Linked DNA regions of Homo sapiens. The protein of the gene in region 3 interacts with the protein of the main gene of each other region in a pairwise test. Each region holds a gene or a part of one and is shown on either strand. Other genes may lie near its edges.

The links.
Region 1: the proteins of MAPT (region 3) and DDX6 interact in binary tests that used the Homo sapiens proteins (3 or more experiments, as listed by UniProt).
Region 2: the proteins of MAPT (region 3) and CAPN10 interact in binary tests that used the Homo sapiens proteins (3 or more experiments, as listed by UniProt).
Region 4: the proteins of MAPT (region 3) and VILL interact in binary tests that used the Homo sapiens proteins (3 or more experiments, as listed by UniProt).
Region 5: the proteins of MAPT (region 3) and MSI2 interact in binary tests that used the Homo sapiens proteins (3 or more experiments, as listed by UniProt).
Region 6: the proteins of MAPT (region 3) and ZFHX2 interact in binary tests that used the Homo sapiens proteins (3 or more experiments, as listed by UniProt).
Region 7: the proteins of MAPT (region 3) and HSP90B1 interact in binary tests that used the Homo sapiens proteins (3 or more experiments, as listed by UniProt).

What each region holds. Positions count from the first base shown.
Region 1 is NC_000011.10:118,762,967-118,767,789, forward strand, and holds part of DDX6 (probable ATP-dependent RNA helicase DDX6), read right to left. Parts: intron 2,390-4,823; coding exon 2,243-2,389; intron 341-2,242; coding exon 246-340; intron 1-245.
Region 2 is NC_000002.12:240,589,040-240,593,862, forward strand, and holds part of CAPN10 (calpain-10), read left to right. Parts: intron 1-303; coding exon 304-435; intron 436-1,775; coding exon 1,776-1,972; intron 1,973-2,893; coding exon 2,894-3,111; intron 3,112-4,823.
Region 3 is NC_000017.11:45,897,532-45,901,429, forward strand, and holds part of MAPT (microtubule-associated protein tau), read left to right. Parts: exon of another isoform or gene 1-1,267; intron 1,268-3,898. UniProt on the Homo sapiens protein: Promotes microtubule assembly and stability, and might be involved in the establishment and maintenance of neuronal polarity.
Region 4 is NC_000003.12:37,999,980-38,004,752, reverse strand, and holds part of VILL (villin-like protein), read right to left. Parts: intron 3,298-4,773; coding exon 3,160-3,297; intron 3,052-3,159; coding exon 2,893-3,051; intron 2,358-2,892; coding exon 2,178-2,357; intron 1,586-2,177; coding exon 1,440-1,585; intron 499-1,439; coding exon 354-498; intron 1-353. UniProt on the Homo sapiens protein: Possible tumor suppressor.
Region 5 is NC_000017.11:57,681,650-57,685,806, reverse strand, and holds the end of MSI2 (RNA-binding protein Musashi homolog 2), read right to left. Parts: 3' UTR 1,118-4,157; downstream 1-1,117.
Region 6 is NC_000014.9:23,541,191-23,546,013, reverse strand, and holds part of ZFHX2 (zinc finger homeobox protein 2), read left to right. Parts: intron 1-4,823. UniProt on the Homo sapiens protein: Transcriptional regulator that is critical for the regulation of pain perception and processing of noxious stimuli.
Region 7 is NC_000012.12:103,933,410-103,936,909, forward strand, and holds part of HSP90B1 (endoplasmin precursor), read left to right. Parts: intron 1-546; coding exon 547-878; intron 879-3,500.

The DNA.
Region 1 (4,823 bases), on a different chromosome or scaffold from region 3:
ACTAAAAAATTAAAACCTAATGTCTGCTATCTCTAAGAAAAAGACAAAATGCTGAATTCCAATGAATGCCTATAATCTACTCCCTCTGACGGGTAAAACACATTTTATAAGCAAATTAATTTAAACTGATTGTTTATGTGTTTATTAGATCATAAACACAAGCAGCTTTTGCTTCATTCACTGGCAGTTATAAGCAAAGCACAGAAAAGTACAGAACAGTATAATGCCAAATGAAGAGACATTACCTCATCCAATACTATCATCTGGACATGATCAACCTTTGCTACTCCTTTCTTAATAAGATCCAGGATTCTCCCAGGGGTAGCAATCACCACGTGCACTATGCAAGATTTAGAAAACATACATTCTCATTAATTTTAATTTGAGCAAAGAGGATAAAGGTTTATAATATTACAGTCCTGAGCTGCTTAATGATAATTCTGAGAAATGCATTGCTATGTGATGGTATAGCCTACTCCATTGTATAGCTCCATTATAATCTTATGGGAACACCGACATACGTGCAGCCGTCACTGACCACAACATTGTATGCAGCACATGACTATCTTTTATTAGAAACAACTAGGCCGGGTGCAGTAGCTCATCCCTGTAATCCCAGTACTTTGGGAGGCCGAGGTGGGTGGATCACATGAGGTCAGGAGTTCGAGACCAGCCTGGCCAACACGGTGAAACCCTGTCTCTACTAAAAATACAAAAATTAGCTGGGTGTGGTGGTGGGAGCCTGTAATCCCAGCTACTCAGGAGGCTGAGGTAGGAGAATCGCTTGAACCCAGGAGGCAGACGTTGCAGTGAGCCGAGATCACACCACTGCACTCTAGCCAGAGCAACAGAGTAAGACTGTGTCTCAAATTAAAAAAAAAAAAAAAAAGAAAGAAAGAGAAGAAACACATTGTGTTATAGAGGTGGAAATAACACAAAAAGGCACAAAGATGTGTTTTAGGATAAAGACTTCCATTTCACCACAGGATGCTTAAAAAATATTTGTTTCACCTCTACATTGGGTGGGGTACAGCTTCCTAAATCACCTGCTGCTTTCAACAGTAGGCATACTTTCTTGTCTTAGGATAATTCTCAATTAATAGCAGAAGGCACACCAGACTTCTGACATAAGAGCAATGCCTCTAATCTAGAGCAGTGAGCCGAGTATTGTTAAAAGGATCAAACAAGATAATTTTTTAAAAACCTATGCAATACAAAGAATGTATCACATAATTATCATATATAATATTCTAACTAAAATCAAGATATAATTTTATATGAGTGATCTCATTCTTGCTGTTTTGTTACCTTTTTCCACTCGGCAATGTATCATGAAACCTCTTCATGAAAATGAATACAGGTCAACTTTACTCTTTAATGACTATGTAGAATCCTATTCAGATTATACCTTAACGTATTTAGTTAGCCAATCTCCTTCTAAGTTGGCCAATTTTTCGGCACGACAATACCACCCCATAGCAAACAACTTTGTACCTACAGCCCTGCATTTACCCAACTTTTTTCTTCAGGAAAGATTCTTAAAAATATACATTTATGGCCGGGCACGGTGGCTCACGCCTGTAATCCCAGCACTTTGGGAGGCTGAGGCAGGTGGATCACGAGGTCAGGAGATCGAGACCATCCTGGCTAATACGGTGAAACCCCGTCTCTACTAAAAACACAAAAATTTAGCCTGGCGTGGTAGCGGGAGCCTGTAATCCCAGCTATTCAGGAGACTGAGACAGGAGAATGGCCTGAACCTGGGAGGCGGAGATTGCAGTGAGTCAAGATTGCGCCTCTGCACTCCAGCCTGGGCAACAGAGCAAGACTCCATCTCCAAAAAAAAAAAAAATATACACACACACACACACATTATATATACATTTATAATTTTAAAATATACTCCCAAATTGCCCATGATAGAGATGTAAGTTTACACCCCCACATTTACAATGTAGCCTATTTGTCCACAAACTCACATTATCGTCTACTAATACTTTTAGCTTTACCAATTAAACAGGTAAAATTATTATAAACTTGCTGTTTTACAATTACTAATAAAGTCAAATATCGTTTTCAATTATGGTAATTTGTCTTTTTCGCTTGAATGCAGTGGTCATTTCCTTTTCTTACTGCAGTATTTCTGTTCCTTAATTCTTAAAAACAATTTTTAATAATTTACTGAAATACTTGTGACTAAAATAACAGAGAGCTACACTACCTTTTAGTAATCATTTCTTACCTGTATCATCAAGCCTCATTATGTCATCTCGTAAATTGGTTCCTCCTGTGGTTGCCATCACTTTGGCCCCTCCCATGTGTTTGCTGACCTGGATGCAAATTTGACTGACCTGTAGAGCAAGTTCTCTAGTGGGAACAATCACCATTGCTGAAACAGTATCAAGGAATATATAAGAAAATATGGGGTGAGGTGGGAGAACATGCTATACATCATTATTTACAAAATTTAAGAAGCTATAGAAATACTGCGCCTTATGATGCAGTGGCTCACACCTGTAACTGCACCTTATGATGCAGTGGCTCACGCCTGTAATCCCAGCACTCTGGGAGGCCAAGGTGGGCAGATCACCTGAGGTCAGGAGTTCGAGAGCAGCCTGACCAACATGGTGAAACCCCATCTGTACTAAAAATACAAAAATTATCCAGGCGTGGTGGCACGCACCTGTAGTCCCACCTACTCAGGAGGCTGAGGCAGGAGAATCACTTGAACCCGGAGGCAGAGGCTGCAGTGAGGCAAGATCGCGCCACTGCACTCCAGCCTGGGCGACAGAGTGAGACTCAGTCTCAAAAGAAAGAAAGAAAAAAAAAATAGCCTAGGCACGGTGGCTCACACCTACCTATAAGCCCAGCACTTTGGGAGGCCAAGGTGGGTGGATCACCTGAGGCCGGGAGTTTGAGACCAGCCTGACCCTATCTCTACTAAAAATACAAAATTAGCTGGGCGTGGGTGGCACATGCCTGTAATCCCAGCTACTTGGGAGGCTGAGGCAGAAGAATCGCTTGAACCCGAGAGGCAGAGATTGTGGTGAGCCGAGATTGTGCCACTGCACTCCAGTCCAGGCAACAAGAGCGAAACTCCGTCTCAAATAAAAAAAAAGAAAAGAAACACTGCCCCTTATAATCTAGATACCGAGATGTATTAAAAAATTGGGCTGGGCAGCACAGTGAGTAACTCATGCCTAGAATCCCAGCACTTTTGGAGGCTGAGGCAGGAGGATCGTTTGAGCTCAGGAGTTTAAGACCAGCCTGGGCAACATAGCAAGACCCCATCTCTACTAAAAAAAAAAATGAAAAAAATTAGCTGGGAATGGTGGCATGTGCCTATAGTCTCAGCTTCTGGGGAGGCTGAGGCAGGAGGATCACATCAGCCTGGGAGATTAAGACTGCATTAAGCTATGATCATGACACCACACTCCAGAATGGGTGACACAGCAAGACTCTGTCTCCCCCGCCAAAAAAATTAAGAAATAAAAATAAAAAGTTGAATCATTACACAGGACATTATGAAAACTCAAATGTACAAATCTCTTTATGAAAAGAGAACCTATTATAGTGTCCCAGATTTAGACTCTCCCTCAGCAATACTATTATATAAATATTAAACTCTTCCTCTTCTTTTTTTTGAGATGGAGTCTTGCTCTGTTGTCCAGGCTGAAGTGCAGTGGCTGCCATCTCGGCCCACTGCAACCTCTGCCTCCCAGGTTCAAGCAATTCTCCTGCCTCAGCCTACTGAGTAACCGCCACCACACCCAGCTAATTTTTTGTATTTTTAGTAGAGACGGGGATTCATCATGTTGGCCCAGCTGGTCTCAAACCCCTGACCTCAAGCAATCCTCCTGCCTTGGCCTCCCAAAGTGCTGGGATTACAGGTGTGAGTCACTGCACCTGGCCTTCTGCTGCTGCTGCTTCTTCGTTTTGAGACAGATCTCGCTCTGTTACCCAGGCTGGAGTGCAGTGACATGATCTTGGCTGACTGCAACCTCCACCTCCCAGGTTCAAGCAATTCTCCTGCCTCAGCCTCCTTGAGTAGCTGGGACTACAGGCACATGTCACCACACCCAGCTAATTTTTGTATTTTTAGTAGAGACAGGGTTTTACCATGTTAGCGAGGCTGGTCTTGAACTCCTGACCTCAGGTGATCTGCCTTGCCTCGGCCTCCCGAAGTGCTGGGATTACAGGCGTGAGCCACCACACCCAGCCAATACTGTTCTTAATTACAAACTTTCAGCATGTTGAGTTCGCAACTATTAGCTCAAAGTTTATTAACAATATTTCTAAAAGCCCCAACTACATTTGAGTCAGATTCACTGTGTAAAATACCTAGGTAGGAAACTCCTGCTACCTAGGCTCTATTTACATCATATGAAAGTGGGAAGAAAAGATAATTACAGATCACGAAAGCTAAAAATGTAAAGTTTCAGAGATGAAATCTTAATTCCATTAACTTACATTGAATATAACTATGAAAATTTTTTATTCCCCACTGCCTAGGCTCTTAAAATCCCAAAATCCACAGCCTTTAAACAGAAGTTCATGTTTCTACAAGGAATTCTGTTAACACTCATCTGCCACAAGAAATAGTTCCATAGTTTATAAGTAGCAATGTCAACTAATTTAACTTCTCATGACCTCAGCCGCCTTTTTTTTTTTTTTTTTTTTTTTGAGTTGAGAGTCTCACTCTGTCACCCAGGCTGGAGTGCAGTGGCACAATCTTGGCTCACTGCAACCTCCACCTCCTGGGTTCCAGTGACTCTCGTGCCTCAGACTTCTGAGTAGCTGGGATTACAGTTGTGCGCCACCAT
Region 2 (4,823 bases), on a different chromosome or scaffold from region 3:
AGCATGAGTAAAAAGTGAAACTTTTCGAAGCCAACATTTAGCTGTTTTGAGAAGGAGCTTGCTAGAGTTTGGGATTTTTCCAGTAAGGAAGGAAGGCACCCCAGAATTAAGCTGGACAGAGGCATTTGAAGCCAGGAGCTGAAGGACACCCGCTGCAGGAAACCACCTTCCTGTCCCTTTTTGGGTAACACTGATGATCGGAAAAGCTCCACCCCAACTCCTGTCATCTAGAGCCTTGGGTTCTTAGTTTGAAGGGTTCCACAGCAGGCATGATCTAACTCTGGACAACTTTCTGTATCTCAGGAGATTTGTGCCACACCCCGGCTGTTTCCAGATGACCCACGGGAAGGGCAGGTGAAGCAGGGGCTGCTGGGGGATTGCTGGTTCCTGTGTGCCTGCGCCGCGCTGCAGAAGAGCAGGCACCTCCTGGACCAGGTGCGGGGCCCCTTCCCTGTGTTTGTCCTGGAGCCGGTTTCTTTTTGCGTTTCTCCAGCCTGCTGAGTACCAGGAGGCCTTGCGAAAGCAGAGCTGTGCCGCAGCCGGATCTCCTGCTGTGTTGGGGGAAGGCAGGAGAGTTCCAAGGCAGAGGCTGAGGACTGCACTCTGTCCCTCTGCTGCAGGGGGGGGTGCCTTGGCCTCGCCAGAAGGCTCCATCAGGGAGGTTCGCCCTGCTCTGTGCTCTCCTGACCCCCGGACTCCATGGAGTCAGATCACCACGTTTAGAATAAAGAGACAAATGTGCCAGCTCACAGGAGGACGGGGCTGGCTGGCAGCCTCTGCCTCAGATCTCTCCTCAGCTAGCTCGCTGGTTTTCTTACAGGTTTTGAATATAAGTTTGCAAAAAGTTATTAAACCTGTTTCTGTGGGTAGACAGATACTCTGGGAGGAGAAGGCCTTCTCAGGTTTTCCTTACCTGGGAGTGTTCACCGTTTTATGCTTGGCTTGTTGCTAAGTGTTGCTGATTAATGCAGCGGCGTCAACAGTGTGACCTCATTCAGAGTTTCACTCATGTCCCAGGCCCCATGGTAAGCGTGTCACAGTCACTGGCTTTCAGACACATGGTCTTACCAGCTTTGACTTTTTTTTTAAACGAGAGTGCTAAAATCACTGCCATTGTGTTTCTGGCCGTAAAGTGGCAGAGCCAGGACCGCACCAGGTGCCTGGTGCCCAGCCTGCACTCCCCCGATGCTGGGTCAGAATGCTTACCCCTGAAGGAGCCCTGCGGTGGACGCTGTGGGTGCAAGCAGCTGGCCCAGTGTCGGGGCGCCAGGCTCCCAGCAGCAGGAGGGGCTGCTGTTCCTGTGGTGACGTGTTGCTTGCAGCCAGCTCGGTCAAGAACTGGGTCACTCATGCCCTTGAATGTCACATTTGTTTTGGCTTCAGGTCAGATGCTTTTAGTGAGGGCAGCAGAGTGTGTCCCGGGATATGTGGCTCCCTCGGTGTGGTCCTCAAGTTTTGCAATGAGAGGTCTGTTAATTTCATGTGGGTGATGCAGCCCTGTGCAGGCGCCGACATCCAGGTGTGCCGAAGAGTTCTCTGCGACATCCAGGTGTGCCGTAGAGTTCTCTGCGACATCCAGGTGTGCCGTAGAGTTCTCTGCGACATCCAGGTGTGCCGTAGAGTTCTCTGCGACATCCAGGTGTGCGTTAGAGTTCTCTGCAGACCGCGGTGCCTGTGGAGCACTCAGCTGTGGCCACACCGCGGCCGGGACACTGGAGTAGCGCCGGGTGGTGCTTATATCACGCTCGCCTTTTGCTTCTCCCTGTGCATGGCAGGTCATTCCTCCGGGACAGCCGAGCTGGGCCGACCAGGAGTACCGGGGCTCCTTCACCTGTCGCATTTGGCAGTTTGGACGCTGGGTGGAGGTGACCACAGATGACCGCCTGCCGTGCCTTGCAGGGAGACTCTGTTTCTCCCGCTGCCAGAGGGAGGATGTGTTCTGGCTCCCCTTACTGGAAAAGGTCTACGCCAAGTGCGTGTGCTGGGGGCTGAAGGGCCTGGCCTGGGGCAAGTGGGAGCTGCCACTACCATGGGCTGCCCCAGGAGGGTCTCTGCTCACTCTGGGCTGCAGAGCCCCCTTCAGTTCTGAGGGTCTGGCAGCTCATTCTGTGAGTCAGGCTGACAGGCCAGGTGCAGAGATTCTTCTTTTGGGCCTGTGGATTGCCCACTCCCTGCTTTCCCTTCCCTTGTTCCAAAGCCCAGCGTGGAGTCGTTCTCCACAGAGAACATGTGTGCCGTCCTCCTTATTTTATCGGCCCCAGCAAGAAAGATGCTTCTTTATATTTGTTGTGGAGTGGTTGGGACAGGCAGACTCATTGTGTAGTCGTTGGGGAGGAATGAGGCTACCCCAGCATACCAACACTTGTGTATCACGGTGCTTGCTGGCTCAGGGGACCAGGACCCTCACCATGAGTCATAATTGAATAGCCTTCCCTCTTAGAATGCATTTGTCTTCTTGCCAAAGGCAACTGGACTGACAGGCAGGCAGGGAAGCTGGTGAACATGGGAAGGCTGGCTGGTGACATCAGTGCCCAGTGAGCCCTTCCATCCCAAGGGCTGTTTTAGGAAAAGCAGGGTTGGAGCTTGAGAGCCAAGGGATGTGGGCATCCATAGCTTCCACGCCTCCTGCCCTGCTCCTGTGCCCACACCGGATGCCAGAGAGTTTCTGTGTGTGGGCAGAGGACTGCAGGGCGCTCACGCTTGCTGTGAAGTAAGGCGTTTGAAGGTGAGGCTAAGCCTTGACTTGGTGAGGATGAGGAAGAAGGCAGAGGGGAGTAAAGAGGTGGGATTGAGGCAGCGGTTGGACGATTTGGGGTGCTACAGACCATGGGAATCAGAGAGGGGGCCATGCTCAATGCCAGAGGCTCACTCCCATGGTGATTGTGTCCCCTAGGGTCCATGGGTCCTACGAGCACCTGTGGGCCGGGCAGGTGGCGGATGCCCTGGTGGACCTGACCGGCGGCCTGGCAGAAAGATGGAACCTGAAGGGCGTAGCAGGAAGCGGAGGCCAGCAGGACAGGCCAGGCCGCTGGGAGCACAGGACTTGTCGGCAGCTGCTCCACCTGAAGGACCAGTGTCTGATCAGCTGCTGCGTGCTCAGCCCCAGAGCAGGTGAGGCACGTGGCCAGCATGGGAGGGCTGCAGCCAGCGTGCCCCCCACTGCCAGGCCTCAGGCACACTGTAGCTTTTTATGTGACTGGCTACACAGCCCTGTCAGGACTAAGTGGGAAGAAGTAAGCTTGTTCTCAAGGGTGGTGTCCTCAGTTTGTGACCTTCCCCTACTGTCCTCTTCCAGAGGGACGTGGCCCTTCTCTCCCCTGACCAGTCCTTTCCACTAGTGCGAGGCAGGAAGAGGTGGCACCGAGTCAAAGCCCACTGTCTGTGCCATCCCTGGCCCAGCTGGCAACCTGGCAAAATCAAAACCTGTTTTTTATTTTAGTGATAGATAACATTCGTTAAAAACAGTTTGTCTCCAAAAAATGAAAGGGGCCAGGTGTGGTGGCTCACACCTGTAATCCCAGAACTTTGGGAGGCTGAGGTGGGAGTATCGCTGGAGCCCAGGAGTTCAAGAGACCCGCCTGGGCAACATGGCAAGATCTCATCTCTACAAAAAATGAAGGAAAAAAATCACTTAGATGGAACCACATGTGACTTTTGAGTGCGCTCTCAGTTTTCCATGAGCACGCACGGTTTACGTGTTCCCTTCCGCACCGCTTCTCACACTGCCACACACGCGCTGTCAAATGTTCGCCCCATGAGCGGGTTTGCCACAGTCTCTTAATCATTCCCCTGATGTTGGATATTAAGATCTCTCTGGTTTTATATAATTATAAGCAGTATCAATGAACATCTTTATCATTTTTTTCATACTTAGGATTATTTTAAAAATATGGGTTAAAGAATATGAATATCACAGTAAACTGAAACAAGTTGTCATAGGCCTTGGTCTGGGTCCCCCATAAGCAGACCCTGAGATGAGGTTCAGGAGCACGTTGAGAGGTTCAGAGAGCCTGGAGGGCGTGTACTCCCCGCCAGCCCCGCTGGGGTGCCAGGAAGGACGCTGGCCTCAGAGCCTCCCACCTGGGAGTGAGGGCGCTGGTCTGGTGGGCATTAGCTCGGGGAGCTGTTGGTTTTGGGTGCTCCAGGGTGGGGTAGCGCTAAGTCCTAGCACTTCAGGCTTTAGAGGAAGCCCCCAGGCAGAGAGAGATGGCAGCTGGCACTGACTGGAGGTGCATTGGAGCCTGCTGAGGTGGCAAGGGGCCGCGGCGTGGGCGAGACTGAAGTCCTTCCAGGAGACCCTCCTCTCTAGACCGTTGCCCCGCCACAGATGTGGCCTTCCTCTCTGTTTGGCTCTTTCTTTTCTATGCCCATCTGTCTCAAGGTCTCTGGCCAGGTGGAGCTGTTGCCCCCCTGGGCCTCCATGCCTCCAGTGGGCTTCTAGCCAGGGCACTATCTGAATGTCCTACCTCTAGCAGGCTTTGCCAAGAGAAACACTCTCTAGATTTCTGGCAGTTGCAGATGCATCTGTGCAGCATGTTTGAGAACTGGTGCTGTGCCAGGCATCGTGCACAGATGGGTACGGACGATGACTGAGGCCTAGAGAAGGGGATGACTTACCCAGCACCAGACCCGGATGGCAGCCGAGTCAGGCCCCGTGTGCTTGCTCCTGGAGATGCTCCTGAGCTGATGGGTCACAGCTGCTAAGAAAGGAGCTCTCGTGGTCCATGGGGATCTGGGGTCTCCCGTGTAGCCATAGTGGGGTGGGCTGGAGCATCTCCAGAGGAGGAGGCAGAGGCCTGTGTGTCCTTGTCAGTTTGGGACTC
Region 3 (3,898 bases):
CCTCGAGGGATGCAGCTTTTGCGCGGATGACGGTGGGGTGCTGAACCAGCCGGTGCGCCTCTGGAAATGTCTGGGCACGGATCCTGGGGCCATCGACGACTCCTCCCCATTCCCAGCAGGCGGGAGCTCTTACATTCCGAGCGAGTGACCCCTCTCACCCTCTGGCGCTCACACACCTGTAACTCCAAACCTCCGTCTCAGAATGGTCCAGGCTGGAAGGGATGATGGGGGCTCCGACAGCGACTGCCTAGCTCACCCCTCTGCGTGCTCAGGCTCCAGGCTCAGCAGGACCAATTTGAGTTCTATCTGATCCCCCTCGGCCCCTTAACTGACCCATCCTACAGGAGACAGGGAAATGTCTTTCCTACCGCGGTTGATTCTGGGGTGTCATTTTGTGTTTTGTGATGGCTGCTTATATTTACTGTATAAGCATTGTATTTACTGTATAAGCATTGTATTATAATTACTGTATAAGCTGCTTATATTTACTGTATAAGCATCTCCAAATCCTCCCTCTACGTAAACAAATTAATGGATAAACAGATAAGTGTATCCCCTGCCCCCACCCCTGCTACGCAGGTCCGGAGTGACTCTTGAAGCTCATACATTCCTTGGCCAAGTTTGCTTCTCTAACAGATGTTTATATAGCAATAACCTGGCTTGGCTCTTGGGTTCACCTTTGGACGATTTGGGGAAGGGGCTTGTTGGCTTTGCTGGGTTTTGGATGAGTGACAGTCCATGACTGTTCCTGCTGGAAGGGCGTGACTTTTAAGTGGTTTCTAATATCAGGCATTGCTCCTCCGACAGGAACAAAAGAAATGGATACTGCCCATAAATTGTTAGAAAACTTAGAATCGCTTTGATTGAGGAAAGGTTAGATTTATTCCGGTTGGAAAAAGTGGCCTTTCTATTAAACGTGCCCTTTGACCCTCATGCCCTTGGAGGTCGGTGCCAGCCTGGAGATGGGATAAGATTGTGGTTTTCCTTCTGCCTTTTTAACATCTGTTGTTACAGTCCATTTGTTGAAAATTTAAAGAAACTGTTTTATTCCACTTTCCCTCAGCATTTATGTGTGTGGTTTCAGTAGCTCTGTGGCTATATGTACGAACACGTGTTATTTTTCCAATTGGACATGTGATAATTTTCCAACTGGACCTTGCCTTCTATTGATGTATTTATTTAGCATCTTCCTTACTCCCTCCTTGAAAAAGAATCACTCAAAAACAAATAAAAACAGCCGTAGGGGCCTAATACAGTGCTAGACATACAAGAGGTATTCGGTCCATACCAAATGGATTTTATCCATGAAGGATAAATGGGGAAATACAGTGGGAAGCAGGTGGGAAACTGCGTTTGACTCTGCTCTTTCCTCCACCACCACTTTCCTCATCACCGTGTTCAGAGACCCCCAAAGCCCCCTCACACTCCCAGAAACACCCCCCTGGCCACTCCTAACTTGCCATGCCCAGGAGTTAGGTGCTTCCACTAGTGACATGGAGCTGGCGTTTGGGGGGCACCTCAGCAGGTGACGGGAAGAGAAGACCCCAGCCTCACCAGCTGGGCTGCAGCAGGGAGAGGAGTCCTCATGTTCCAGCAGGGACTCTCAGCTGTTTTCCTGTAAAACCATGGTTCTCAACTGGGGGCCACTGAGATGTCTAGAGAGATGTTTTTGTTTTCACAACTCGGGGAGGGTGCTACTGACATCTTGTGGGTAGAGGCCAGGAATGCTGTTAAACATCCTACAAGGAAGGCACAGGACAGTCTCCTACATCAAAATATGACCCAGTCCCAATGTCACCACTGCTGGGGTTGACACTGGCACTGCTATCTTAATTACATTCATTGAGTGTCTTTTAGGAGGCCCTATTCTAAGTGCTTGCTAAGATTATCTCATTTAATCCTCACAACACTTCCGCTATGTAGCAGGTGCTGTTATTATCTCCGTGATGGGGAAACTGAAGCACAGAGAGGGTTAGTAACTTGCTAAAGGTCACAGAGCCAGTGGGTGGTGGAGCTGGTTGCCTGACACTAGTTCCCTCCCCTCTCAGCCACATGTGGGTTTACTTGGCCATTGTGGACTAGTCTGGGAACCCAGATATGATCTATAACATTGACCCAGTAGAATATTGATTCCAAAACCACTGTCTCACAAATGAATTTTTACAAGAGTCTGTAATCGGAGCATGACCCAGAATAAGGTTAGGGAGATGTGGAGTTAAAGCTCTCAATTTCTTATCTGGCCCCGACACAGAGAGCAAGGCATTTCACTCTACATTGGTGCTCTGTTTATAAAACAAAGAGCAAATATCTCTTCCTAAGGTCCTTAAACCTCTTCCCCCAATCCAGGGTTTCTGGACTGCTCTGCCATATGACGGGGCAGCTGGTTTGATTGACCCAGGGAAGGCTGGAAATCAAGACTGGGGGATCAAGACGTAGATTCAGTGTGGCCAAGGTCAAGTCTCTGAGGTTTAGGGACATCAGATCCCCAGCTTAGGTTCTGTACCTCGGCAAGGTGAAAGCGTTGGCGCCCACTGATGAGGCCTGCTCTGAGATTGTGGGTGTGGGTTGAGTTGGGTGGGCATAGGCAAGTCCTCTTGTAAGAATCTTTTGGCAAAGATGGGCCTGGGAGGCTTTTCTCACTTCCTGGGGCCCAGGCTTTGCAATAAGTATTCCATTATACTGTGGTACCTTGGGGCTACCTGAGAATCCTCTGTCTCGCCCCTGTTGCCTTGCCAAAGAGTTTGCTGTCCAAGAATTCCTTTCCTGTCTCCAGGTGCCATGCTCCTGCCACCTCTGCCAGGTTCCCTGCCTGCCCAGATGGCTCCCAACTGAGTGTGAGGAGGAATTTGAGACAGGTTTTGAGCTTTCTGGGTTCTCCAGTTAGGAAACTTTCTGTAAGCATGCAGATAGAATGGGCTTCAGCAAAATACAAACTCGAACAACTTCCATGTATAGTCCCTTAATTTTCTTTGCTTTTTTCATATTTCATCAGGCTCCATGCTGAGCCCAATCAGGGACCCGATAGAAATCCAAACACCATGTCAGCGAGTCCCCAAGAAATGCATTTTGTGCCAAGGCTATTCAAGGAAGGTTTGGGAGCAGCTCAAGGGCAGACACTGTTACCCTCCCCCAGGTCCCCAGTGCAGGGCAGTGTTCTGCATGTGGAGGCAGTTTGGCCTAATGGTTAAGGAGGTAGGCTCTGATCGGGCCTCCTGGGCACAAATCCCAGCTCCCTGCTCACTGTGAGACCTAAGCCATATTGTTTAGCTGCTTGGAGAGTTTTTTGTCATCCACAACTTGGAGTATGATGGTACCTGTCTCACGGGTTGCCATGGGGTTCACACAAGCTAACCCGGTACTCACTAGGGCCAAGCACATAGTAACTGCTCAGTAAATGGCATCATCGGCGGTGTCCTGTGGATGAGTGCTTGTGATTGGCTGAATGACCAGAGGGGTCTAAAGATCCTGGTGATGGAATCAGTTGTACAGATAAATTGTTACACTGAGTAGGGATCAAGATAGGAAAAGTCGGCAACTACCCAGCTCCCCTGCACCAAACTGGGCAGAAGTGGATCCTCTGAAAATTGCACACACCCATGTTTAAATGTACACACAGAACTCTTGCCACAGGCAAGCGGAGATTTGTCATCTGCTGTCCCTGCCTCATCTTCTTCCTGAAATCCACTCCATGCCAGGAATAAACTGCATGCTCTCCACCAGCCCAAACTGACCTGCCTTCCCGCCAGCCATCCCGGGCAGGGTGACCTGGCTTAGTACATCGGGTTCAGAGATCTTTCCAGTTTACTCGTTGAATAAAAAGTGAGGGCTGATCGAGAAAGTAATGGCAGTCAGGGAAGGCGAAGGAGGTAAAGAAGAGATTTTACAAATGAAGTAATTC
Region 4 (4,773 bases), on a different chromosome or scaffold from region 3:
ATTCCAATCACAGTCACTCATGCAGCACCGACACATGCTCGGCCGCAGGCACTGTCGCTGGAGCCACACATAGTATCATAAGGCACACAGGGCCACACACAACTGCAAACATGGTCTCAGTTACCCCTGAGTTCCAACACACTCCTAATCTCCCGGAGTCTCACTGCTGCCACCTGGTGATGCACACTCATCCATGGTCTCATATGCACCGCAATGCAATTGCTCAGTGACAGGGTCAGACTCACCCACAGCCCTGTGTACAGAGGCAGATGGCTAGATACACACACACCCAGTTACACAAACAGAAACACACCCCCGTTCACAGCCCCACCAGGCAGGGATGGCCACCTTACCTCCTGCCAGGTGTCCAGTAACATGATGTCATACTTGTCCAGGTCCTCCTGGCTGAAGAACCCCACTTCTGCGAGGACCAGGCAGCCCATGTGGCTGGAGCACTCAAACAGTCGTGGCTGGAAGCTGGGGACCTCCTCAGGGAGCCTGGCCAGCACGGACAGCAAGGCTGTGAGCCACCCAGAGGGGCACCCCAGCCCATGGCACAAGTGCCCCACCCCAGGGCCTGGGAAGCCACTTCTCAGGAGTGGGAGCCCTGGGCCCTCCTCTGAGCCCCGTGGTTTCTCCCCGAGCACTCCGCTCTGCTCTGGGTACAGGGTCCCTCTCTGCTCATGGAGAAAGCTCTCGCCCCACCCAGCTGTGACGCAAGGTGCCCCATGAATTTCCCTAGGAGAGGGCTGCAGGGGTAGGGGAGGGCCTGAGCTGGAGTCTCGCCCTCCCTGGGATGGGAGGAGCTCCTCAGCCCACCCCTGGCAGAGAGTAGGTCTCCGGCCCAAAGTGGAAGGAGGCAAGCCAGGCTGGGAGAAGGAGACGGGAGTACTGAGCTCAGGAGAATTGTGGGGAGTGCAGCACATAAACCAAGCCCCACAGGCAGACCAAGAGCGACCAGGACTCAGCTCCCTCCTCCCCTTGAGGCCTCACTCCTACCTCCTACACACACCCTGTCCACTTACACACCACACACAACACCCTGAATACACCTGTTCTTGCACATCCACACACACTGTATACCCACACATCATATGACACTGTATACACACACACTGGGCACCGTGATCCCTGAGGACTGTAGGGTGGGGAAGGGTGCTTTGTCCCCTGGCCCAGGACCAGGACAATGCAGGGAGGGGATGCTGCCAGCAGAGGTCGCCACTGCCCCCACTCTCCCCAGCATCTGAGAGACGCAAGTTACCCAGGCCTGGGAGCGAAGCGTGGGCTGTACTTGTGGGAGCCTCTGTGAGTGGGAAACTGAGAGTCCTTGGTTCTAGTCTCGTCTTGCCAGCTCTCTGTGTGAATCCCAGTCACCCACCCTCCTCTCTGGGCCTCAATTCCTCCTCTGGGTAAGAACACTCTCCTCCCAACCCTGTTACCTCTTGTTGCTGGGGTAGGGGGCCCGGCCTCCCAGGGCCTCCCAGAAGTGGGGAGGCTCCTGACCCTCCAGCACCGTTTCCTCATTCTTCCTGGAAATGACAGTGACCACCACCCGTGCCATCTCACGCTGATCACCATTACAGCCCTAGCAGGCAAAGAGATGGCTCAGGCCCTGCATGAGGAGGGGCCTTCACCTCCGGCCCCACGTCCCGTTCACAGGGTGTATGGGGTGGGGCTGGGCCCAAGTCACAGGAGGCCTAAGCTGACAGCAGGACACCAGTGAACAAGGCATCTTCCTCACCCTACAGGCCTGTGTCCCCAGTTGATCTGGATCGCAGGGTCTGGGACCCTCGCAGGGTCCAGAGCATGGGATAGGAGGCCCCCAGGCTTAGAGGGTCAGTCATAGTTTATGCTGAATATTAGAGAAAACTCCAGCAAACTGGCATAGGCCTCCCCTTTTCCCAAGAGACCTGGGAAGGGACATGCCCTGTGCTCCAGGCAGTAAGGAGGGGAGGCGGCCTGGGCCTGGCTCTGACCTGCGGACTCTCAGGTCCACCTGTCACTTTGTAACTTTCCCCAAGTTCTAGAGGGGACCCTGTGGCTTCTTCCCCTCCCCATTCCCCCCATCGGCCTATCTGAGGCTGGACTCAAAGTCTGCATGCCCTGTGGAGAGGACCCACCCCCAGCCTGGCACCACTACATCTGGGCATGAATCAAGTGGTCAGTGCTGTGGGTACCTTCCCAAACCAGAGGTAGCAGACGCTGGCTGTGACCAGCAAGAAGATGTCACTGGAGTTGAGGGATGAGGCACGGGCTGGCACCTCCATGGTCCTGGTGTTGTGGCTGTCAGTGCCTTGCACTTGGAAAAGCCTTGTGGTGGATGCTGACTGCCCCTTTCCATGGTGCCCAGCTCTCTCCTATAGGAGAGCAAGGCCTCAGGCTGGGCAAGGGCTCCCAGGGGCGCCTTCCTGTCCCAGTGTGGGACATATTGCCTCAGAGCTCAGGGACCCTTGCTTGAAGCCATCAAGGCCCTCACTGGTGATTTCACATGAGGAGTACAGGACCCTCTAAGTGTGGAGTGCAGGAATCCCATCAGTCTGGGACAGGGACAGACCCTTTTTAAATGGACCTTTCCCCCCATCTCTGAGTGGTTGGGGCATGGGTGCTCAGGCCTTGGAGGTGGAAAGTGGGGACCAGGTTTGCTAGTGTGCAGCCCCAGGCAAGCCCCTGGCTCCCTTTCAACTCAAATTCCTCATCTGGCTCTGGGACTGGGGAGGGAAACTCAGGCAGGGGGCCAACCTTGGAGCTCCTGGGCCTTGGACAAGCTCTGGGAAACTAGGGGATGATAAGCAGGCCCCAGGCCCAAAGAGAAGGTGCTTAGAAGTGTGTGCGGGGGCCATGGCCCATGCAGAACTGGGCAGGCTGTGGCCAGAGTGGCAAGGTGAGACCTACCTGGAAGATCACCAGCTGGCCCTGGAAGATGGCGAGGAAGTGGGGGGGCTCGCTGCCCATGGTCACATGCTCCTGTACTAGGACGCCACCATACATGACATCTAGTTCCTCAGCGTTGCTGTTCAGGGCCTCAATCTCATCCGCAGTGGCCTGGTGGCCCTGCAGGTGGGGGCAGTGAGTGAGGGCCTGGCCCAGCTCTCACATTTCACTCCCAGAGCCCAGCCCTTGGGCTTTAAGGTGAGTGCTGCCTCCCTCAGGCTGGCACACCTGCCATAGGTACAGGATGTACTGGACACGGCCCAGCCTCTGGTATGTGTAGAGCACAAGGTAGCAGTTGCCTGCACACAGCTGTCCATGACGCTTGGGGTCCACGGGCTGCCTGTGTAAGTCCTGGATGCACCACACCTGGGGAATAAGGGACCAATGGGCACAGGTGGCTGCTCTTCCTGAACCAGCCCACCCATCCTGTACCCAACCGGAAAGCTCTCCCCAGCCTCTGAGGCCTTCCTCATCCACGCAGGCCAGGGGCCCACCCTCAGCTCCAGGCCCATTCTGGGCCTTGTGCTGGGCTTTGTACAAGGATCTGCAGGTGACCCTTTCCCCACGGACCCCTGAAACCCACCACACTTGGGAGATGGGCCCAATCCCAGCCACATGCCCAGCCCTAGTCCCAACCCCACCAGCCACAACCCTGGTTAGGGGCAGTTCAGTCCCCTCCCAGCTGCTCGCTGCTCAGGCCAGGGCAACAGAAGCCGGGCGGAAAGGGAAGCCTTGGAGCTCTTGAATGAATTCCCTTTTATCCAGTGTCATTTAGAAAACACAAAGCCTGTTCAAAGACTGAAGGGGAAACACTGTCTCACATCTGTCAGTGTAGTTTCTTCTTCCTGTGGGTGGCAGAGCCTGGAGCCAGGCGGACTCTGGTCAAATCCCAGGTAGGCCCTGTGTTGGCAGTGACATTGTTCTAAGCTTCGGGCCTTTCCCACCTGTATATTGGGGATGATGACGCCTCCCTTACCTCACCTCTGCATGGCAGGAGACAATGCCTGGGTGTCCTTTCCCACACTGACCCTGACAGTTGTCCCTGGGGAGCCGACCTCCAGACCAGAGCAGCCAGAGCCCTGTCTTTCACAAAAGTGGCTGACTTGACTACAGGCCACCTAACAGTGGCAATTACCGGGCAGCCAGGACCCCTGGCTCAGGCCCTGTCTCTGCCTGCCTGTCCACTGCCTACCAGGAGGGATCCTGTCCCTGACTTTGTGCTTGGCACCTGAGTCCCAGGGCTCTCTTTCCCTCCGTCCCTCGCCTTTCCTTCTGCTTTCCTGTCTCCCTCTCCCACTGTCTGGCTCTCTGTCTCTCTCTGTGTATCCCATCTATCACTGACCCTCCCTCTCTTCTCCCTGTACCCCCTCTCTCCCTGCTCTTCCTCCACCCCACCTCCTCCTCCCTTCCCTCTGCCTCCTCCTCATCCCCTGTCCTTCCCAGTCTTTTCTTCTCTGTCTCTCTTTGTGCTCCTTCCCTGTCTTCCTCTTTCCCTGTCTCCCCCTTCTTCCCCCTTGCCCCATCTCCTCCTCTCTCAGTCTCTTCCCACTCATCACTTCTGTCCATCCATATTAGGGCAAAGGAAGAAGGAAATCTTGCCTTTTCTCTGACCTCCACCTACCTCGAGAACTAGGACCCCTCGCATAGGCCCAGCAGTTCTGTTCCCACAAGACCACAGGATCCCCACATCAGCCTTGGGGCCAGATGGGACCACAGTTTCTGACCCCACTTTATTTAAAAACTAGGGCCTAAAAAATTCAGGGCTCTGCCTAGGGGGTCAGCCAACAAGTCAAGATACAACCACACCCTCTACAGAGCCTGGAAGTAGCCCTCAACCCCTGC
Region 5 (4,157 bases), about 12 Mb from region 3:
CATTGGTCTTTCATTTCTGTGGGGCAGCAGGGATTATACTCTTCTCTCCTGCCCCTAAACAATGTAACGAGACACTGTGGAGTGCTGTCTGTGGACACACAGGAGGTGGGCCTGGAACCCAGTGCTCCTGCCTCCAGCTCCAGATAAAGGAATGCACCTTCGACTGTCTCCTCTAGGACCCCAGTGTAGCGGGAATGCCTTAAAACAAAGTTGTTAGTGTTGCAGCTTTTTGAAAGAACCTGTCTAGCTGGTTTTCTGGTTTTCACCGGAAGACCCATTTTACAAAAAAGATAAACTTGTTATATGCAGGAGACAGGAAATTGGAGGAGGGACCCAAGAAGGCCATGTCCTGGAGAATACAGCTTTCCTGGGGGCCTTGAGGAAGCAGCTAAGGGCCACTGTCCTTCATCCACGCTTCATCCCTTGCACTCCTCTTGGCCTGGTGTTTCTCTCCAGGGCTTCAAAGCTGAGGAATCCACTGATTCAGAGCATGCTGTAGCCGTCATCACCAGGTATTGGGACTTGCCCTCAATGTACTGGGTCTCAATTCTTTTGTATCCTCTCGTTTGTTTGGTAGAGAGAGGGGTGGAAAGTATTGTAGATGATCTATCTCTACATCTTTAGTTTTGTGATTGTAATGATTTCCAGTAGGCAAAACTTAAAACTCCTTGAGGGCAGAGGTCTGATACCTATTCAGACCCCTACTCAGGGGTCGTGGAATGCGGTTTGGCGCCTTCTCCCAGCACTGTTGATAACTGAGGGCAGCACCCGGGAGGGCCCCTTAGCTCCTTCCACCATCTGGGTCCTCTGATCCGCAGGACCTTTGGGGTTTATTCCCTGTCCACTCATGGGTTCTGTGTACCTTCTGCTGTTAATCTACACCCCTCTCCCGTCTGCTCTTCCATCTTAGTGCTCTCTTGCCACTTCATAAAAATGGTGCCACAAGCTCCCTGGGGACAAGGCAGGGACTTCTTCGCTGCTGGAGGCCCACGGCCAGCATTCATGCTGAGGGGTGAGGGTGGCAGGTGCGATTTGATGATATCCTCTCCCGCCCAAGCAAAACAACAGCTCTCCCAGACCCCAGACCTCCTCTGCAAGTGAAAGAACACCAAACAACTCTGTTCAAAACAGTTTATTTTATTTTATTTTTTTTTTTGTCAGACAAACACATTGATTTCTGGACCACAGTAGAGGATGGAAACCTTTCACAAACTTATTTATTTGAAAATACAAATATAAAATTATACTTTCCACATCTGTGATGTGAGAGACTGCCATCCACATAGTAATTTTTTACAACAGGGCTTTAAGAAAGCCACACACAAAGACCTGAAAGATGCTTGAGATATATATATAGATAGTACATATATATGTATATATATAAAAAAAATACTCACTACCAAAGTTCTCATCAGTTTCATACTAAAGTATAAAAGTAAGGGTGAGGTCAGCCACAGTGCTAGGGAAAGTTTTATTTAGATACATTTATGTCCACATGAAACGCTTAGACTTGCATCCTATTACATATGGAATTCGGAGTTTACAATACACCATGAACGGCAGATTGGCTAGCCCACGCTACTTAAGAGGACACTCACAGATTCCACATGGGATGGTACATTATGTACAGAATACAGTAGTAGAGAACCTTCGAGGGAGGCTCTGGAACTTTTGTCTCTCAGCCTCCGGCCCCCTCCCCCATCATGCCCCTGCCTCCCGGAACTGAAATCCTGTCTGAGACAATACATTCTGATTATTTGATAGCCAGGTGTTTGGATTAAGGTTGCCCCCCTGCAGGTCCCCGACAAGAGGGATGGATTTTATTTATATGTTTTTGTGTTTTAGTTTACTTACTTTTTTTTGGTAGAAAAAAAAGAAAGAAAAAGAAAACAAACATATTACAGTATTAAAGTATTGCTTAACTTCCAGCGTCTCCTTGTGTAGTGTCTGTGCCCAGGACGGGGCTGAGCTGACGTCTGCTAGTTTTCTGCTTTGGGGTGAGGGTGGGGAAACCCGCCAGTGTCTTTCTTCAATGTGCTTGCCTGCAGTCAGTCCCTCTGCTCTCCCACTGTCTGCCTTCCTTGGAAGATAGCCTGGCTTGCGAAGCACATTCAAGAAAAAAAAAAAAAAATCTCCCCTCCCCCACCAGCCCCCCACTCTCCCTCTGTTCCTGCGTGCCACTTGCAACCAATAAAGAGAAGTATGAGTTAGTGTTTCTTTTGTAAACAATTTCATATGCAATATAATACAGAAAGCATGGCTGACCTTCAATAAAAAATGTAGTAAACGATATTGCTTTATTCTTGAATATGCTGCAGTGAGTGAATGGCAGAATGAAGCAGTGTGGAGGTGGTGGAGGAGGCTAAGTCCCTAGCCCTCGTTTGCACTAAAGATCAAAATAGGTTTTGTTTTTCTATTTGGAACCAAAAATAAATTTTTTCCCCAAAAACCCCCAAATGAAAAGGAACAACAAGCAAAACCCACCCCCAAGAAATCAAAAACAAAACAAAACCAAGAACAAAAACTGAACACCTTTCAGGTCATTAGAACCAACAATTACCCAATGATTTTTATACTAGTCTAGCAAGATGTGTGTAACATTCACTGGCTGTGATTGCTGTGCAGTGAAACAGTAAATTGACAGCAATAGAGCCATGCTACCTTAAAGTCCAAGCTACAAGTTCAAATTAAGATGAAGGTTATGAAGGATAAAAACGCAAAGGCCTGCTGGGGCTTTGTTTGAATCAAGCTAATGGGCGACTGGGATAGAGCGCGAGGCTGTTTGGTATAGAGCGCGAGGCTGTTTGTTCCCAGTGGATATAAGGAAGGCCACGAGCCAAGTCTGTGGAAGCTGCTAGAGAGCAGACCAAGGCTTGGTCATCTCCGTCAGCCCCATGCCCAGCTAGGACCGGGAATGGGTCCGGGAGCTAATGCCACTCACTCGCCTCTGCTTGGGAGGAGAGGAGTTCGGGGGTCTCAGGCAGATGGATCTGGAAGCCAGAAAGTCACCCGGTGGCTGTTTGATAATTCCGGGGAAAAGCCATCAGCCAAGAGGGTTTCTCCCCCAGGGAAGGCGAAAGGTGGTTCCCATGTTCGCCATTGAGCTTAACTGAAACAAAGACGAGGCTGAAACATCAGTGTTAAAAGAATTTACAAAAATCTTTCAAAATGGACTTCTAGATGGAATGGGGGGACTAACGTGAACCTTAAACCTAGGTAGCCACATTAAAACATATCGGATTTCCACAAGATTTGTGCTATGGGCTACTGGGTCTCTTCAAAAGGTATATAAACATCTAAAACATATTCACACAGATTATCAATTTCTTCTGAGCATTCTTAAAAAAATATTTTTTCTCTTAGTAAAATCATTTTAATATACCATGCCTCCCTCTTTTAAAAAATAAATTAAAAAAATCCAGTTTTGCATATCTAGCATTAGCATTTAAGGTAGTATGGCACCCCTTCACAGTGGGTGGGGGGGGGGGGATCTACAAAACGCCGTAGAGTCCGCCGGCATTTTAACATGGTGAGACCTTGGGTTAGTTGAAACCACATCAGATCAGCTAAAATAAAATTAAACTTGAAATTGAAAAAAATAATTAAAGGAAAAAACTGCCCCAAAATTATTAGCATTTTTTTTCATAAATAAGAGAAAGTTCTATCCTTACTGGTCCTAAATCTGAATAACTATGTCTAATTTTTTTTAAACCTTAATTATGTTATACCTATCAATATGTACTAGAAGAAAGAGGAGAAAAAAAGTCGCTACACTAGTACCAGGACAGCACGCTTACAAGATAGCCATTTTATACATTATTAACATACAATGATCAACAAAGAGTCTTCTATGAGGTGATGGGGGATGCAGAGAAAAGGAAGGGAAGTACAGTACATCACCAACATGGACAAAATAGGAATTAAATTCCCTCGTCTAAACACTGAATTTCTGGGAATTTACTATTTTTTCTTTCTTTTTTTTTTTTTAAATAAAACTTATGTTTTGTTGTTTTATGACTTGAACAAGTTTTGATATTTTAAAAGCGCTCAGCATTTAATCTGGTTGTTTGGGGGAAAAGAAAAGAAACAAAGAAAGGAAAAAAACAACAAAAAAACCTCACCAAACAACCTAACATTTTATTAGAAAAACAAAGAAC
Region 6 (4,823 bases), on a different chromosome or scaffold from region 3:
TGGGGCTGGGCTTGGGCTAGAGGTCAAGAGTCAATTACCAGTCATTTGGCTTCTCAGTGAAGGAGGGCAGAGGGTGGGCCAAGAGTGTTAGATTGTGTTTCCCCGAGGACCTGATGGGGTAAACGCCATTTCCATCCTCAGATTTTTCATTCCTTGTTTTGTGATGCCCTTTTCTTTCCCTAATCTCAAGCCTCTGTCTTCTTTATTCCTGGGCCATGGGCATGGGTCTAGATTTTGCTGCTTCTCTTGCCTCCATCACAGTTGTCTGCATTTCCCCCCAGCCATCTCTGTGTTCTGTATCAGTGGTCTGCTTGGGCCACAGATGCCTTTCTTCTCATCTCCAGCTTCTTCAGGCTATGTGGTTTCCACAAACCTACAGATAAATCCTGCTGCTTTAGGGAAAGAAGTGCACTTGAAATTAGAGAGAAGGCCAGGGAAGGATGAGAAAGAGGTTCTGGAAAGATTAGGCAGGGAGAAGTTGGGAGAGAGTATGACAGAGATAGGAGTCAAAGGTGAAAAACCCATGACTTGGAGATGGGAGAGAGCACAGAGAGATGGCCACAATTTAAATGAGAAAGGAAGGAGTGCAGTAGGCTGTGAGGACTAAGAAATTGGAGAGCAAACAGGAAGCCTGACCCCTCCGCAGGGAAATGAAGACAGCTGAGGAGGGCGGACGAGTGGTTGTGTAAGAAGTAGGGCTGAAAAGCCAGGCCATGGTCTCGGCCTGCGTGTCAGTCCTGAGTTCAAGCAGTGCTGGCTTTGACCCTTATGGGAGGAACTGAAGTGGCAAATTAACGACGATAATGAAGTCACTGCTCCTTGTTTGTCTTTGCTGGTTTCCCCTTGAGATTTGTCCTTTGGCCAGACAGGGCAATGTGGGGGAGGGGAGGAACTGGAGCCGTGAAGGGCGGGGGAGAGGGAAGGAAAAGAGGATGGAGAAATGGCAATGTGGAGGACAAATTGACTAGAGGAGAAAAAAGGGAGGGTGATGAGTGAAGAGAAGAGGAGCCCAGAATCGAAGAGAGAAGCGGGAAGGGAGACATGAAAGGAGAATGAAAGAGGAGAGGGGTGCAGAAAAACGGCCAGGGAAAAGAACAATGGGGGACAGGAAAGGGAAACCTGGTAGGAGGAGCAGAAAAAAAAGGTGGGAGAAGGAGAAGTGGAATGGAGAAATGGCGAGCCGGAGGGAAAGAACGTGGCCAGGGCTGCAAAAGCTGCAGCTGGCAGGGCCAGTGGGCGGGGCCTCATCTCCATCTCTAATGGCTGTGAAATGAGGTTAGCGCCATTAGAGGCAGCGAGAGTGTAACGAGATCACACTCATTAGGGCTGGGCCATCCCAGTAATTACCACCACCCTAAACACGCCCGCGCCAGCCGGGCCAACCACATACGGGCTCACAGCAACACACTGAACAGGATACCCTACTACTGAAAGGGAAGCACAGGGCCCACACACGTGTACATGGAGGGCCTGGGAAAATCCAGCCAGGGAGAACAAGCACCTTCACCAACCCCAAAGAAGTACTGGGACAGGGCTACAGCCAGGTTACCAGCTGCCCCACATACAATCAAAAAACAACATACACATACCCCAACACAGGAAATAAGGCATATGGATGAATAATTATTCCATTTCCATTTATTGATACACCCAAAGTGCCAATCTCAATGATGATCCTCTCAATGGACTCAACTCCATGAGTTCCCCATTCCCTTTTTTTTTTTTTTTTTCTGTTTTCTGTTTCTGATGTGTTTGTTTTTAGACAGGGTCTCACTCTGTCACCCAGGCTGGAGTGCAGTGGTGCAATCTCGGCTCACTACAACCTCTGCTTCCCGGGTTCAAGCGATTCTTCTGCCTCAGCCTCCTGAGTAGCTGGGATTACAGGTGCATGCCACCACGCCCGGCTCATTTTTTTTGTATTTTTAGTAGAGACAGGGTTTCACCGTGTTGGCCAGGCTGGTCTCAAGCTCCTGACCTCCAATGATCCACCCACCTCGGCCTCCCAAAGTGCTGGAATTATAGGCGCGTGCCCGGCCTGCCCCATTCTCTATATGAAGAGACTAAATTGAGACTTTACGCAACTTACCTGAGGTCATTTACATATTAAGAAACAGAACTAGAATTTGATTCCAGGTCTGTCTGACTCTAAAGGCTATTTTTTTTTGTTTTTTGAGACAGGGTCTCCCTCTGTTGGAGGGAGAGTGCTTGTCTGATGAAGTTCATATGCTAATATGGATACACATGTGTAGACCTTCAACTTTAAGAGATGTTGTCACAAATGGGTACACATATCATTCAAAGAACACTACCCGCCATTATCTATCCCTTCCCTCCTGTTCCCACTCCCTCCCTCCCGCTCCTTCCCTTCCTTCACACAGGGCATGGCCAGTGCCCCTGCATGGACTGCAGTGTGAATGACGCACCCTGGAGTTGCGCAAAGCAGTGCTCCTCTTCTGGTCCATCTTATACTAAGAAACAAACCAAATGGAAGACAGCCATCTAGCACCTTCAGGCGGAACATGATAGCACATATGCTCAAGGTGACACACAGAGTAATACAATCAGACTCAAAAGACCTCATTCAAAATGCATACCAGCCAGAGTTCAGAAGCTTACAAATTAACCCAAGAGCAGAGGTACTGACATCAGGCTACCTGAGTTCCAATCTCAACTCTACTTCTTTTTAAGCAGGAGATCTTAAAAATTACTTAACCCATCTAAATCAGTCTCCATGTTTGTAAAATAGGAATGAATAGCTACATCTATTGCATCAGATTGAAGTGGAGGATTAGGTGATGTGATACTTGCCGAGGGCCTAGCACGGTGCCTGGCCCATGGCAAACATTTAAAGATGTTAGCTATTTACTATTATTACAATTAGTTTTTGTTGTAATACTATTTAAATGCAGTCATTACATCACACAGGTTCACAGAATAAAATAACCAGAAAGACTTATTTACATACACGGTCACTCAGAATGTTTTCCTTCCAGCCGGGCGCAGTGGCTCACGCCTGTAATCCCAGGCCAAGGTGGGCGGGTCAGGTAGTCAGGAGATAGAGACCATCCTGGACAACATGGTGAAACCCTGTCTCTACTAAAATACAAAAAATTAGCTGCTTGTGGTGGTACGCGCCTGTAATCCCAGCTACTCGGGAGGCTGAGGCAGGGGAATTGCTTGAACCCAGGAGACAGAGATTGCCGTGAGCTGAGATCACACCACTGCACTTCAGCCTGGCAACAGAGACACCATCTCCAAAAAAAAAAAAGAATGTTTTCCTACCAAGTTCTGGGAGACCAAATTCTTCAGCGGTCCCCCATGCAAGGATCAGATAGGATCCTGATTCTGAATTTAAGGGGACAACTCCCTGAGTGCTCATACAGAAGAAGGGTTCCGAGCTGGTTCGTGGTTGTCTAAGCCTGTGGTATGTAGAACGAGAGAACCACATCTAGCAGGATGTGAGTCTCTCCAGTGTACTATAAAATCACATAGATCTGTGCAGCAGAGCAGCTCCACACTGCTGTCCTAACACATCCAACACTTTCCAAGTCATCAAGGGAGATGCCTCCTCTCCTGGACACCCACCCCCATCAGTAGCAGACACTCTGCAGCACACCTCAGCAAATCCATGCAAATGTGAACGTGTGTGGTTTCAGCCTACCGCTTCCCTTCTCCTCCTGTCTGCTCCCTACCACCCCCATCTTCTTCCTGAGCCTACCCTTTTCTCCTCACACCTCACCCAATCTACTCATGCCCACCTTAAGCATCTTGCAAAGTGCAAGAGACAGCCTCCTTGCCACCTCCTTCTCACTGGGGACAGGCCACCATCCCAATCTGGTGCCAGAGCTGGGAGGCCTGGAAAAGATTCAATATATGCAAATCAAGACCTAGCTTCATCTTCCTCTTCACTTCCTTACCTCTCCCTCTCTCCTTCCCTTCTTCCTCCCTCCTCTTCTCTGCCTTAGCGATCTTTCTTTGCCCTTTACAACACTCCTTTTCCTGCTTGTCTCATTCCCTGCCATACTCGTTCTTTCTCTCTCTTTTGGACAAAACTTATTTGCACAAAGTAAGCTCTCCTTAAATATTTATAAAAGGGGAAGGGTCTAGAAGAGATAGGTAGAATTAAAAGGGAAGAATCAAAGTACTGTTTGTTTTCTTTTTAAATATAGAAGGTAAGATTTAGAGATGATAGAATGATAGTTTTAAATGCAGGGATGACTTGGAAAGGATCTTTGGAAAAAAGAAAAAAAGAAGACATGCAGGGAAAGGCCAGAATAGTTTTGATCCACTTATTAGCTGCTTCTGTCCAAATGTGAGCCTGGGCACAATTTCTACTCTTTGCTCTGGAATAATGGGTCTCTCTAGACCCAGCAATCAAGAGGGCTAAGAAGTGAACTCTATGGCTGAGTAGACTAGATTTAAATCCTGGCCGGGTGTGGTGGCTCAGGCCTGTAATCCCAGCACTTTGGGAGGGCGAGGTGGGCAGATCACCTGAGGTTGGGAGTTTGAGACCAGCCTGACCAACATGGAGAAGCTCTGTCTGTACTAAAAATACAAAATTAGCTGGGCGTGGTGGAGCCTGCCTATAGTCTCAGCTACTTGGGAGGCTGAGGCAGGAGAATCGCTTGAACCCAGGGGTGGAGTTTGCAGTGAGCCAAGATCGCACCATTGTACTCCAGCCTGGGCAACAAGAGCGAAACTCCGTCTCAAAAAAAAAAAAAAAAAATCCTGTCCATCTAAGATTCTGCCCTCAGTTGAAAAGGGCAGAGATTAGAGGATGAGTCTTGGTCAAGAAAGGGGTGAACAGAGGCCGGGCGCAGTGG
Region 7 (3,500 bases), on a different chromosome or scaffold from region 3:
ATTATAATTAAAGGCTCAGCCTGAAAACAGAGCTCTCCTTTACAACTCATTGGCCATTTATAACTCATTGGCCAAAACTAGTCACATGGCCTTAGCCATTCTTAAATGGAAAGTAGAGTACTCCTAAGTTTCTGGAAGGCAGACAGCCAGGAATATTGAGTGAAGAATATTAATGATCCATCACAGATTCCAAATAGAGGAATCATTCAAGTTGTTTTGTATTCTAGTAAAGAAATAGGCAAGACATAAAATTTTATTTTTCTTGAATTGTTTTCCTTCAAAGGTAACTTGTTTTATTTAGGTCAGCCTCTAACCTTTGACATTTAGGCCAGTCTGCCCATTTGATATTAATACTTTCTCAAATACATAAATTACTTTAAGATGTACACTTTCAGAAAAGGCCATAAAAAACTATGTGGAGGAAAATATCTCAGTTTAGTTTTCTGTATTGGAATTGATGGGACCCAAAGCTGGTTAGTTCCTCAATATTTGTTTGGCATAATGTAAATATTAAATACAACTATCTGGTTCTTGTCTTGCATTTAGTGTGATAAGGAGAAGAACCTGCTGCATGTCACAGACACCGGTGTAGGAATGACCAGAGAAGAGTTGGTTAAAAACCTTGGTACCATAGCCAAATCTGGGACAAGCGAGTTTTTAAACAAAATGACTGAAGCACAGGAAGATGGCCAGTCAACTTCTGAATTGATTGGCCAGTTTGGTGTCGGTTTCTATTCCGCCTTCCTTGTAGCAGATAAGGTTATTGTCACTTCAAAACACAACAACGATACCCAGCACATCTGGGAGTCTGACTCCAATGAATTTTCTGTAATTGCTGACCCAAGAGGAAACACTCTAGGACGGGGAACGACAATTACGTGAGTATGACCAATTCCTTATAAGAATTAATAGTCATGGTGAGGATCTTGACTCTCCAGTTCTATTCTCTGAGCAAATGACTTATTCTGGGCCTTAATTTTCCTGCCTTATAAAATGAGGAAACAGAACTGTTGTCACTTGAAGAAATGTTTGAGGACCTGCAAAGGGCCAGGCACAAAGGTTTGTGATTGCTGTTGTACATGGAGGGTATAAAGTAGGAAATAGCAGCAGCTTCCCCAAGGGAGAAGGCTTCTTGGGTACCCACAGAGGAGGCACTGCTTGGTCAGTTTCCCAGGTTAGAAGAGTAATTTGTCTGTGGAGCATCCTGAATAAAGGCATGGAGGCATAGCATGCTCACTAGATGAACAGAGTTCTTTTCGGTGGCAGTTATGGATAGAATGTGATGAACTTTTATTTATTTATTTATTTTGAGACGGAGTCTCACTCTTGTTGCCCAGGCTGGAGTGCAATGGCACAATCTTGGCTCACCACAACCTCCGCTTCCTGGGTTCAAGCAATTCTCCTGCCTCAGCCTCCCAAGTAGCTGGGATTACAGGCATGTGCCACCACGCCCAGCTAATTTTGTATTTTTAGTAGAGATGGGGTGTCTCCATGTTGGCCAGGCTGGTCTCGAACTCCCGACCTCACGTGATCCACCCACCTCGGCCTCCCAAAGTGCTGGGATTACAAGCATGAGCTACCGTGCCCAGCCAGAATGTGATGAACTTTTTAAGATTCTCAAGGTGGTGTGGAGGATGTGAGGAGTGGACAAGGGGAGACTCTTTGGGGGAAATATTCCTCTTGAAAATATTCAAGATGAGTGGTAGCAACCAGGGCTGGGGCTGGCTTGTAGAGATAAAGGGCTTAAAGAAAGTTCATGAAAGTTGTGAAAGCTGTGGAATAAAATACGTCATTTAAGGATAGTTACAAGTTTTTAAATTTGAATTAAGATCCCTCTTAAGCCAGTAACTGTTGTTTGTATGGGTGAGACAGAGCCAGTGCCCTACAGTAGCTCTCGTTGCTTATAGCACTGTGACGTAGACAGGGCAGCTTTTTGCCTTTTTAAAATTTTACCATCTTGGAGATGAGGAAATTCTATTTCAGAGGTCAGTTGGCTTGCCAACTCCTGCTAAGTGAGTAACAGAATGTGCCCACAGCTTCAATTTTTTTTTCTTAATTCAGTTTTAAGTTTTCTTAACATTAAGGGAAAGAAGCACATACTTATCATTGTGACCAACTTTCTTCATCCTAGAAAGTAACATTTCCTGTTTTTACTGCAGCAGATGTTCTTTTAATGAAGACTAATTAGATGACTGCATTTTAGTACTTTTTTAACTTGTGTTCCCAATTTACCTTCCCCTGCCTTCGTCACTAACATTGATGTCTCCAGGTTTCATTTGGAGGCATCACTAAGAGTTATGCCCCAGTGCCCTCTCTTTTTAAGCACTGGGCTAGATGTTGGAGAAGGATAGGGCAATCATTCCCAAGGAAAGATAGAAAGTGATGTCCCAAGAGATGTTAATGTCAGGTTGCTAAGAAGCAGGTGAAATTATCTGGATATAAGCTCCATGAAGGCAAACATTTTGTTGGAAGCTCCATTCCCAAAGCTTAACACTTAATTGGCAGCCATTTGTATGAATAAGTGAGGTTAAACAGGACAGTTCCATGCAGGGAACGATGGCTGCTAACACCTATCCAGGACCTAGTTTCCATGACCATGCATATCTTTTTAAAAATTTCCTTTGCCCACTTCTTAAATGTTAACATACATTTTCTCCAAGTTAAGTTTCAGCCCTTTTCTCATTGTCCATGTGATCTTTATGTAGTCTTATCCACTGCCACGGCCTCAGGTTCCATCTCTAGTTCTCAAATTTATATTCTTAGCCTAGATCAGGAGTTAGCAAACTTTTTCTTAAAAGAGCCAGCTAGTAGAAAAAAAGATAAAAGAAAACAACAAGAAAGAAAGAGCCAGCTAGTAAATATTTTTAGCTTGTGAGCTATATGGTCTGTCACATGTCCCAACTCTGTTTAGCTTGAAAGCAGGCATAGACAATACATAAGGATGTGTCCCAGCCAAGTGTGGTGGCTCATCCCTATAATCCCAGCACCTCGGGAGGCTGAGGTGGGAGGATCACTTGAACCCAGGAGTTTGAGGTCAGCCTGGACAACATAATGGGATCCCATCTCCACAAAAATAAAAAATAAAAAATTAGCTTGGCACAGTGGTGCATGCCTGTAGTCCCAGCTACTCAGGAGGCTGAGGTAGGAGGATTGCTTGAGCCTGGCAGGTCAAGGCTGCAGTGAGCCATCATCACGCCTGGGTGACAGAGGTCCAAAAAAAAAAAAAAAAAAAAAAGTGTCCCAATAAAATTTCTAATGGGTGCCAGCTGTACAGCTATAGCTTGCCAGCCCCTTGTCTAGGTCTCACTACTGGGCTCTGTGTTCATGTGTTTAATTGCCTTTTAAATGCTTCTACCTAAGATATCTAACCAGCAGCTTCTACTTGCATCCAAAACTGAACTCTTAATCCCCAAATCACTAGAACATGTGCTCTGAGACCAGGGGCCTAGTCACTCACTAGGCTTTGTCATATCATGGCTACTTATTGGCCAGGTACCACT